Homo sapiens: one gene and its partners. The protein of the gene in region 1 interacts with the protein of each later gene in a pairwise test. Each region holds a gene or a part of one and is shown in the gene's direction. Other genes may lie near its edges. The genes, in order: BACH2, ZNF774 and CWF19L2.

What was found.
Region 2: the proteins of BACH2 (region 1) and ZNF774 interact in binary tests that used the Homo sapiens proteins (3 or more experiments, as listed by UniProt).
Region 3: the proteins of BACH2 (region 1) and CWF19L2 interact in binary tests that used the Homo sapiens proteins (3 or more experiments, as listed by UniProt).

The regions. Positions count from the first base shown.
Region 1 is NC_000006.12:89,943,738-89,947,393, reverse strand, and holds part of BACH2 (transcription regulator protein BACH2), read left to right. Parts: intron 1-3,656. UniProt on the Homo sapiens protein: Transcriptional regulator that acts as a repressor or activator. Binds to Maf recognition elements (MARE). Plays an important role in coordinating transcription activation and repression by MAFK.
Region 2 is NC_000015.10:90,355,183-90,358,838, forward strand, and holds part of ZNF774 (zinc finger protein 774), read left to right. Parts: intron 1-3,656.
Region 3 is NC_000011.10:107,426,812-107,430,467, reverse strand, and holds part of CWF19L2 (CWF19-like protein 2), read left to right. Parts: intron 1-1,016; coding exon 1,017-1,669; intron 1,670-3,656.

The DNA.
Region 1 (3,656 bases):
AGGTTTCCAAGAACTGTCTCAGGGACTTGCCATGACTGCTGCTCGAGGAGTTGATAACCTGCTTTAGGGAGTTACTTTGACCCTGGTTGAAGTATTATCCCCAGTAATAGTGCTCAAGGCAGATCCTTCTCCACAAGTCAAAACTTGTTTTCCTGAACTGATCCAGAAGAAGCCAGCATCTATTGGGCTAATTCTGCCCTGCCCTGCTTTCATATGGGATCCAGGTGCCTTCTCTTTCAAGTGAACCCCACGGAGACACCAGAGTCAGAAATCAAGACAGGAGTTTCCACCCCTTGCCAGACGCCAGTGTAATACTTCGCGTGTGTTTTCCCAATCTGTCTTCCTCCACCCCGTAGGGAGCCAAAACGTTAGACCAAAAGTGAAGTGTTAACATACCTTGTATTCTGTAAGATGTTGTAGTTATACCGTGTTAAGCAGCCCTTCCATCTCACAGTCGTTGGCTTCTCCCATCCTTTTTAACTGTTCCCTGGCTTCGAGAAAGATCAAATTAGCGCAGTATTATCCTTTATCAATAATCAGCTTTTTAAAATGACATTCTTTTTTAAATTCTAGAACACAGCATACCCAGCCCCAAACATACCAAATTTAACAGGCTTTCTCTTTGCCTACAACAATATACAAATATATATTCACCTCTCTATGGGTTTGGGTTTTATTTTAATGGCATTATGTTGTAGAGTTAGCAGCTTCCTTTTTTCACGTAGCTGTCTACCATGCACGTGGCTGTAGGTCGATCACACAGGGCCAAGACATGTTTCTCCAATATCTCTCGTTCTCGTAAATCGTAGTTCATTCAGCTGTCACTTATCACCAGACATTTCAGTTGTTTTCAGTTTTTCCCTCTGATAAACATTGCTGCAATAAACATTTTGTGACCCTACTGTTAGTAGTGGTGCATTTATTTTTGTGGGTTAGTTTCAAAGATGGGCTAAAGGTTGTGCCCATTTATTAAATACTACCTAATGACCTACCCAAAATGTTGTAGCAATTCACATATTCATCAGCAACTTAGAGTGTCCAATTTCCCCTATTCTTGCCCATACTAGTTGTCACCAGTCTTTTTAATTTTTGCCAATTTGATGGGCAAAAAAATGGTGACTACTAATGAGGCTGACATCTTGTTTTATGTGTATTGAACATTTATATTTCCTTTCCTGTGAATTGCTGGTTTACCTCTTTGCCTATTTTTCTTTTGTATTGTTTAACTTTAAATCAACATGTAGGAATCTTAATCCCTAATATTAGGAATATTAACCCTTTCTCATAAATGTTGCTTAGATATTCCCTTAGTCTGCTTCTTTATTTATTGTACCTTTTCCCATATAAAAAAATATTAGTTTTATGTAGTCAAGGTATAAGTCTTTTTCTTTATGACTTCTGGATTTGCTATATTCCTTAAGAAGTCAGGTTGGGAATTTTTCTCTTCCAGTAAAAAAAAATGAACAAGTCACATAAGTGAAAATCACAAAGCAGTATGCACAAGGTCCTAGTTTGTTTCCTAAATATACACACCATATAAATAAAATCAGCATAGAGAATAAGAAAAAACTGGGAGCACCGTTGGAGAGGAGTGTAGGGAAAGTTTCATTTCTATGTATGTCTGTAATGTTTGAATTTTATGTATGTCTATCTTGCACAGGTTTATTTTTTAAATTAAGACATAATTCCCATATCATAAAATCCACCCTACTAAGATGAACAATTCAGTGGTTGTTGATATATCCACAATGTTGTACAACCATCACCACTATGTAATTCTAAAACATTTTCACCACCCTAAAAGGAAATGCTGTACCTATTAGCAGTTACTCCTCATTGCCCACTCCCCTCAGCCCCAGGCAACCAGTAATCTACCTTCTATCTCTGTAGATGTACTTGTTTGGGGCATTTGTATAAATAGAATCTTGCAAGATGTGGCCTTCTGTGTCTAGCTCCTTTCACTTTAGCATAATGCTTTGAAGGTTTACCCTTGCCATTGATGTACTCACCAGGTATATTGTCATGTATTAGTACTTTGTTGCTTTTAATTCCTGAGTAATATTCCATAATGTTGATCCATTTTGTTGACTAATACCACATTTTGTTGTTCATTGGTTGAGGGCCATGTGGGTTGTTTCCACTTTGGGGCTATTATAAATAATGCTGCTGTGAGCATTTGAGTACAAGTTGTTTTTAAGACATGTTTTCAGTTATTTCCATAATATTCCTAGGAGTGGAACTGCTAAATCATATAACTTTGTATTTAACCTTTTGAGGAGCTACTAGACTGTTTCCAAAGTGGCTATACCATTTCAAATTCCCACCAGCAGTGTATCAAGGATCCAGTTTCTCTGCATCCTCGCCAACACTTGTTATTGCCCATCTTTTTTGTTAGTGCCCTCTAGTGGGTGTGAGTAGTTATGGTTTATCTCATTATGGTTTATAGGTTTGTTTTTAGATGTTGGAAATTATAGAAAATTACAGTCATTTTCCAAAGTAGTAAGCCTCTTAGTAAGACAGCTTTGTAACTGGACCATTTCTACTTAATTGTAGATTTTAGTAAAGAAGCACCACAGAGAGTTTCTTTGCACAGTCAAAAGTATGGATTTTTGGACTTGCTTTATTAACATGTTTTACACTGAGAGAGATAAAAGTGTATGAGAGTAAGAGAGTGTGTTGGGGGCAGGCAGGGGGCGGGAGAGAGAGAGAGAGAAGGGAAGAGAGAGATAAAGTCCAGAGAAAACATGGAAATGGTACAGAATAGAAGAGCCATCTGACTCTAACTCTTCCCACCCCAATGCTGACTTTGAGACACATGTTGTATGTAAAATTTTCACAATCATTTTTGTGGTTTGGTGAATCAGGCAAGTTTTTAGAAGTGTCTGTAATTGGTCTGCTTAATAAAAAGAAACCTTGCTGGGCAGCATAGAAATCAGCCATATTTCTAATTAAAACAGTGTTTTTATGTTGTCTAGAACATTGTAAGTGTCTGGAATTCCAAAGCACATGTCTGTAAGACGAAACCATGTGACAGAGATAGATAGGGCTAATAAACAGAAATAATAATACCTTGTATCTATCAGGCAGTTGAAACTTTCCCAGGCACTTTCTCCACCTGTCATCCAGTTGTATTCTTCATAGCAACCCTGTAAGCTAAGTAGGGCAGGCGTTATCGCCCTGTGACTCCTAGATCCTCCAAGAACTTTGGGACAGACAGAATGAAGACTTGCCTGAGATCACACAACTAATTAATTGACGTATCACAACTGAATCCCAGGTGTCCCATATTTGTGCTAGAAACTGGACCATGAGAAGAGGGCGTGGAAGGACAATTGCGCGAGAAACATTTCTTCACCTGGGAGGGGAGATTTTGTCATTGCCATCTGCCCAGCACTGAGCTGGCTGTCCTGGTTCCAGCAGCACTGGAATCATCTCCAATGGGCATATTGCTTCCTCCCTCGACAGCTCCCTGGGATCTGAGGGTCTCCTCAGAGTACAGGCGTTAAAGACTTCGGAGAGCTGACCACACCATCAGTGTCTCAGGGTATCATGCTAATGTGACCCTACTCCCATGGGTTTCAATCAACATCTGGTAATAAAACCAAGAAATGAAGTAGGAAAAAATATTAACAAACTAGTCTTCCACTGAGATTTCT
Region 2 (3,656 bases), on another chromosome or scaffold:
TGGCATCTTAGAGCTCCAGACCTCTGTAAGATTAATTGTTGCCTCCTTGGGAGAAAAACAATTACTTCCTTATGCATTTTATGGTTTGCAAATGTCTTTGCTATTTATTGTCCTTTTAATATCTCATCATAACTTTTTGACTTATGTATTACTATCCCCCTTTTCCAGCCTGGGTTGGACTCTCACCTCTGCCACTTAACTTCTGAGACTTCTGAGGTCTTTGTGGAAAAGGAGGTAATTTTTTCTGTCACTTAAAAACAGGCTGGGGGCAGTGGCTCACGCCTGTAATCCCAGCACTTTGGTAGGCTGAGGTGGGCGGATCATAAGGTCAGGAGTTCGAGACCAGCCTGGCCAACATGATGAAACCCTGTCTCTACTAAAAATAAAAAAATTAGCTGGGTGTGATAGCGGGCGCCTGTAATCCCAGCTACTTTGGAGGTTGAGGCAGGAGAATTGCTTGAACCTGGGAGGTGGAGGTTGCAGTGAGCTGAGACCACGCCATTGCACTCCAGCCTGGGCAATAGAGCAAGACTCTGTCTCAAAAAAAAAAAAAAAAAAAAAAACAAGGCTGGGCGCGGTGGCTCATGCCTGTAATCCCAGCACTTTGGGAGGCCAAGGCAGGGAGATCACAAGGTCAGGAGATCGAGACCATCCTGGCTAACATGGTGAAACCCCGTCTTACTAAAAATACAAAAAATTAGCCAGGCATGGTGGTGGGCACCTGTAGTCCCAGCTACTCGGGAGGCTGAGGCAGGAGAACAGCGTGAACTGGGAGGCGGAGCTTGCAGTGAGCCAAGATCATGCCACTGCACTCCATCCTGGGCGACAGAGCAAGACTCCATCTCAAAAAAAAAAAAATAAATAAAAAAAACCAAAAACACCTCCAATGCTCTTTCTCAAATATCATGGCTACCCTTCCTCCTGCTTTACTTCTTTCTTTCTTTTTTTTTTTTTGTGGCAGAGTCTCGCTGTGTCGCCCAGGCTGGAGTGCCATGGCATGATCTCGGCTCACTGCAACCTCTGCCTCCTAGGTTCAAGCGATTCCTGGATAATTTTTTGTATTTTTAGTAGAGATGGGTTATCTCCATGTGGTCAGGCTGGTCTCAAACTACTGACCTCAAGTGATCCGCTCACTTCGGCCTCCCAAAGTGCTGGGATTATAGGAGTGGGCCCAGCTCTAATTTTTGTATTTTTAGTGGAGTCGAGGTTTCACCATGTTGGCCAGGCTGGTCTTGAACTCCTGACCTCAAGTGATCCGCTGGCCTTGGCCTCCCAAAGTGCTGAGATTAGAGGTGTGAGCCACTGCGCCTGGCCTACTTCATCTATTATACAAGTAATGTATACTCATTCAATAAAAAGTCAAGCAAAATGAAAACAAACATCATCCCTAATCCCACCAATGAAGAGTTACTATCCTACCAGCATTTTTCTAAGCATATATACAATTTTAAAAGAAGCACAAAAGAATAATATTGGGATTATGCTGTATATTCAGCTGTACATTCTTTCTTCCATGTTGTATTGTGAGTATATCTTTCTTTACATCACTTAAAATAACCACCTAGTATTTTGTTTTATGGAATACAATATTATTTTGTTGATGAAGTCAAACATTAGATTGAACCATATATCTGACCTTTTTTTAACCTATAAAAATAGCAATTGCCTGAGCTACTTGGGAGGCTGAGGCAGGAGGATCCCTTCAGCACAGGAGTTCGAGGCTGCAGTGAGCTATATAATTATTCCTTTGTTGTGGGACATTTAGGTCATTTCTAAACTTTCACCAGGTTGTGATAAACATCTTTTAGCTCGTTTTTTAAAAAGTATTTTTTATTGAAGTATAATTTTATCATTTTCTTAGAATTCTCAGAATTAGAATTGGTGGGTCAAAGAACAGATACATTTCTAAGGTATTTAATACTTTGCAAAATGCCTTCCAAGAAGATTGAATCAATTGATTTATTCCCACAAACATTATATGAAAGTGCGCATTTCTTTATATTCTACCTTTCACAGTGGGTATTATAATTTAAAGAGTCTGGGCCTGGGTGTGGCAGCTCATGTCTATAATCCCAGCATTTTGGGAGGCTGAGGCAGGAGGACCACTTGAGCTCTGGAGTTCCAGACCAGCCTGGGCAACATAATGAGACCCTGTCTCTACAAAAAGTTACATTAACCAGGTGTAGGGGCTTGTGCCTCTGGTCCCAGCTACTTGGGAGGCTGAGGTGAGAGAATCGCTTGAGCCAGGAGCTCGAGGATGCAGTTAACTGTGATTGTACCAGTGCTCTCCAGCCTGGGTGACAGAGCAAGAGCCTGTCTCAAAAACAAACAAACACACACACAAAACACAAAAAAAGAGTCTGGGAAAAATAGCAATAATAGTTAACATTTATTGAAGTTTTTTTTGGAGATGGAGTCTCAATGTGTTGCCCAGGCTGGAATGCAGTGGTGCAATCTCAGCTCACTGCAACGTCCGCCTCCCAGGCTCAAGCAATTCCCATGCCTCAGCCTCCCAAGTAGCTGGGATTACAGGTGTGCACCACCACACGTGGCTAATTTTTGTATTTTTAGTAGAGACAGGATTTCTCCATGTTGGACAGGCTGCTCTTAAACTCCTGGCCTCACAAGTGATCCAACTGCCTTGGTCTCCCAAAGTGCTGGGATTACAGGTGTGAGCTACTGCACCTGGCCAATGGATCTTATTCTTATCCCAATTTTTTTTTTTTTTTTTGAGATGGAGTCTCTCTCTGTCGTCCAGGCTGGAGTGCAGTGGTGTGACCTCGATTCACCATAACCTCTGCCTCCTGGGTTCAAGCGATTCTCCTGCCTCAGCCTCCCGAGTAACTGGGACTACAGGCCTGTGCCACCATGCCCGGCTAATTTTTAGTAGAGACGGGGTTTCACTATGTTGGCCAGGCTGGTCTCAAACTCCTGACCTCGTAATCCGCCTGCCTCGGCCTCCCAAAGTTCTGGGATTATAGGTGTGAGCCACTGAGCCTGGCCTCTTATCCCTATTTTATTGATGAAGACATTGAGACACAGAGTTTAAGTAACTTTCTTAAGGCCACACAGCTTGTAAGAGGCAGGATGATGACTCAGACCCAGGCAGTGTGACTCTTGAGTTTGCACTCATTACCTCTACACTATATTGCCTCAGTGTATCATTGTTATAATGGAATTTCTTTGATTATAGTGAGGTTAAACATTTTTCGTATATTTACAGGCTACTTAACAACTGTTTGTCTTTTTCTCATGGCTTTTTTGACTGCTGCCATTCTGGGAAAATTTTAAAGCCCAACATTATAGTTAACTTCCTTCATTGTTTCTAAGGGTGAGGTCATGGAGGCTTGGTTTCTGATAAAATCCTCTCCATATTTAGCTTTAGCCTTGTACCTTCAGAAATGGTTATTGTATTTACTTCAGAGTTTCTGTCACCTGAGTCTGGTTTTTTTTCTTTATGGGAGGAAAAGGGCTTTTTTTTCTTAACATTTTGGGGAAATCACCGTGTTTTATCACTGTACCATGGCTGCACTTTTTTAATGACACCAAATACACGTTAGAGCTCCCCAGGTGTTCTTCCATACCTAGGCAGGGAGTAGGGCTTGGATTTTGCTCAGGCCTTGTGTGATTGGCTCAGACTCACATCCTATGTTTAC
Region 3 (3,656 bases), on another chromosome or scaffold:
TGAAAATGATTTTCTTTGGCCCATACCAAGGAAGGATAATTTGACTGTGAATTGAATTCTCTATATAGAATTATAGCTTAATTTTGTTTTCAAAATTTAATCTTCATTCTATTATTTACTTATTATTATGGATGAACAGCTGTAAGTCTGTCTTTCCTTTGTGGATAATTTGTTATTTATCTACCCCTATCCATATACAGGCTCACACTTATTCACTCCTTCCCTGATCTAGTCCTTGTAAAGGTTTTTTTTTTTTTCCTTGAGTTTTGAGATTCAGGTATTAGGGTTTTTTTCTGTGTTTTTCTTCTTTCTCCCCCACCCAAGGCTATTGGATGAGTCCTTCTGAGAAATCGGCTGGGGAAATTTTCTTATATATTTTTAAAATTAATGCTCTATTCCCATCATCTTTGCTCCATCTTTCTGGAAGTACTAATAAATGCATATTAGATTTTCTAGAATCAATTGTTCATGTATCTTTTTTTCTTATAACTTACATTTATTTACTACCTTTTCCTAAAATATAGAGAATTCCCAGGTTAATTTAGTTTTCAGCACTGTCTTTTCTTCCTTTTGGTGTATCTTGGCAGCTTTTTGGGACACACAATTTTTTATTTCCAAGTCTTTCTTGTTCTTGAACTATTCTGTTTTTTTTTTTTTTTTTGGTGAGAATCTGTTTTAGCAATTTAACCTCTTGAATCTCACAACCAGTAGGAATTAAGTATTTTTTGCAAAGTTTGTCTCTACTGTTTTCTGTGTTATACTTTGTGTTAGTGCAGAGTGTTTGGTGTAACTGGCTATCCTTTTGGAATCTTTTTGTTATTTAATAATTTTTAATTGTTTACACATTTTTAGAAAGTATTCGTTTCCGTATAGGATGATTGTATGGGTCTTCTTTCACCCCGTTAGTGGGCTTTTCAGTGTGCCACTTGGCAGTGAGTCATACAGTGACATGTGGGGTGCAAGTCACTGAGCCGTTCCTAATTTTAGATATCTTGTTTAATTTTTCTCCTTTGTAGTCAATGGAAATATTTCAGTCAAAATTAGAAGATGCTGAAAAAGCTGCATCCACGAAAGAAGATTATAGACGGGAACGGTGGAGGAAACCCACATATTCAGATAAAGCACAAAATTGTCAAGAAAGTAGAGAATCAGACTTAGTAAAATATGGTAACAGTTCAAGGGATAGATATGCTACAACAGATACTGCAAAAAATAGCAATAATGAAAAATTTATTGGTGATGAAAAAGATAAGAGACCTGGGTCTTTAGAAACGTGTAGAAGAGAATCTAACCCAAGGCAAAATCAAGAGTTTTCTTTTGGCAATTTGAGAGCTAAATTCTTGAGACCCTCTGATGATGAAGAACTGTCATTTCACAGCAAGGGCAGAAAATTTGAACCACTTAGTTCATCTTCAGCATTGGTAGCTCAGGGCTCTTTGTGTAGTGGTTTTAGAAAACCCACCAAGAACAGTGAAGAAAGATTAACATCATGGAGTCGCTCTGATGGGAGAGGAGACAAGAAACATTCAAATCAAAAGCCATCGGAAACCAGTACTGATGAACACCAACATGTTCCAGAAGACCCAAGAGAAAAATCACAAGATGAAGTCTTGAGAGATGACCCTCCAAAAAAAGAACATCTACGGGATACAAAGTCTACATTTGCTGGGTATTTTATCATTTTTTAACCTAATAAGTTAAGATCCAGAGAGTTCAAAGAACAGAACTGTATTTTTAGAACATCAGTTATTAGCTGTGACTATGATCTCACATTTCTTAAAATTGATAGAAGGGGTAAGATATGCAGATTTAACAGGCAGTATTGTGGTATGGATTGCATTTTATTTCATAGGTTTTTTTTTTTTTAAGAGCTGAAAGCAGTAGCTATATTTGTTCAAAATATGTTGCTGCTTTGCAATTTAAAAAACTGAATGAGTTAATGTTTTAAATGTATGTGCTGCAGGAGATATTTTGGTAGATTTTGTTACCAATGCCATTACTTTCTAAGGAAATTATCTTATTGTTGAGTATAATCATAATCATAAATACTGCATGTCTATAGGAAGTCTAGGAGACAAAAGGAAAACACGCTGCCACGGCCCAAATATAAAGTGACAAATACATGCCAGAGATCTTGCAGAGGGGAGCATGAATTATGGTTGTTATTTTGCACAAAGAAAGAAATAATCCACTTTGGGCAATTGACAGATTTTAAAGATAATATTAGAGTTTTAAATATAAAATATATGTTGCATTTATGTAGGGCTGGGTTAGAAGATGAGGAAACCCAGGTTGAATGGGACTAAACCTAAGAAAATTTGCTTTAGAAATTTGCTGGCCCTGTTGGAGATAGCCAGAAAAAAAAGTGTCCAAAGGGTAACAACTTACACGTGAATGATCATTAAAATATGTTTAAAAATAGCACCAAATGAGTGGGACACTAAAGGAAGAGGTTTTAGGAAATAATAGAAACACATGGTTGTAGTAGATAAAAGCACTGTGGTTTGGGGTTGTGAGTCTGATAAATCACTTTTGTTAATGACTCCATCTGAAGCAGTGGATTATAAAACTCAGTGTGTAATTTTCGGTGGGAGGGAGCTGGCAAAATCTGAACTGAGTGATTAAGCCCCAGTCAAATGGACTCTGGTTCACATCAGGGCTTTCCTCCCAGGAAGTGGAAGGAGAAATCCAATTGTATTGACTAAACAAACATGGCAGGGATTATTGTCTAAGGCTGTATGCATATGTAATTGTCCAGTCTTCACTCCAGGTGCCCTGGGTGGTAGACTATTTCCAGTTCCCAGTCACTAGGGGAATGAGGCTCTTATTTCCTGATATCATTAGGATTGGGTTAGCATTTGGATGATCTGTAGGCCTTCTTCTGTGACTGTAGCTAAGCAAAATGTCTGCAAAGTAATACCACACGATTAGTATTCCAACCGGTTGTCTGATTGCTGCATATTTGTATGTCTTATTTAAGTTGTAAGCTTCTGATAGATACACTATAATACAGGCACTCACTAAAAGCTGTGTATGTATATAATTTTTCGGTTTGAAGACAGCACTCACTAAAAGCTATATATGTGTGTATATATATGTATGTATACATGTAATTTTTCCTTTGAAGACAGTATTCTTTGTTCGCTGTGTTAATTTGATGGTACAGAGGGTTTGAGGCTTTCTATGAATTCTGTGACTGGCTGGAGAGGGAAAGAAAAATCTAGGAATCATCCAAAAAAAAAGATTCCTGAGAATGTAGAGTGGTTGTAAAGTAGGAGACCAAGACAGGACCTTGAAGAATGCCTAGTTGTTACAAATAATCTTTGTCTTATAAGTGAATGGTCATGATTGGAAAAATTAGTTGAATTAGTTTTTACTTCTTTGTATGTATTGTTCATATATCTTTACCTTTCTTGTTATTTACACCAGTATTATTTTTTAGAACATGCCATTTGTAATCTTAATAAATGTATATGTATAAAATTTAAACAATATAGACAGAAGAGTATAAAACAAGAATATGAAGCATAGGTGAGTATAAAATGAAAAAGTAAATCTCCCTTTCATGTCACTTCCAACCCTAATCCTATTTGCCAGGTTAACAGTGTTGGTAGTGTCTTTCCAAATTTTTTAGTGTATTTGAAAATGTGTAATAT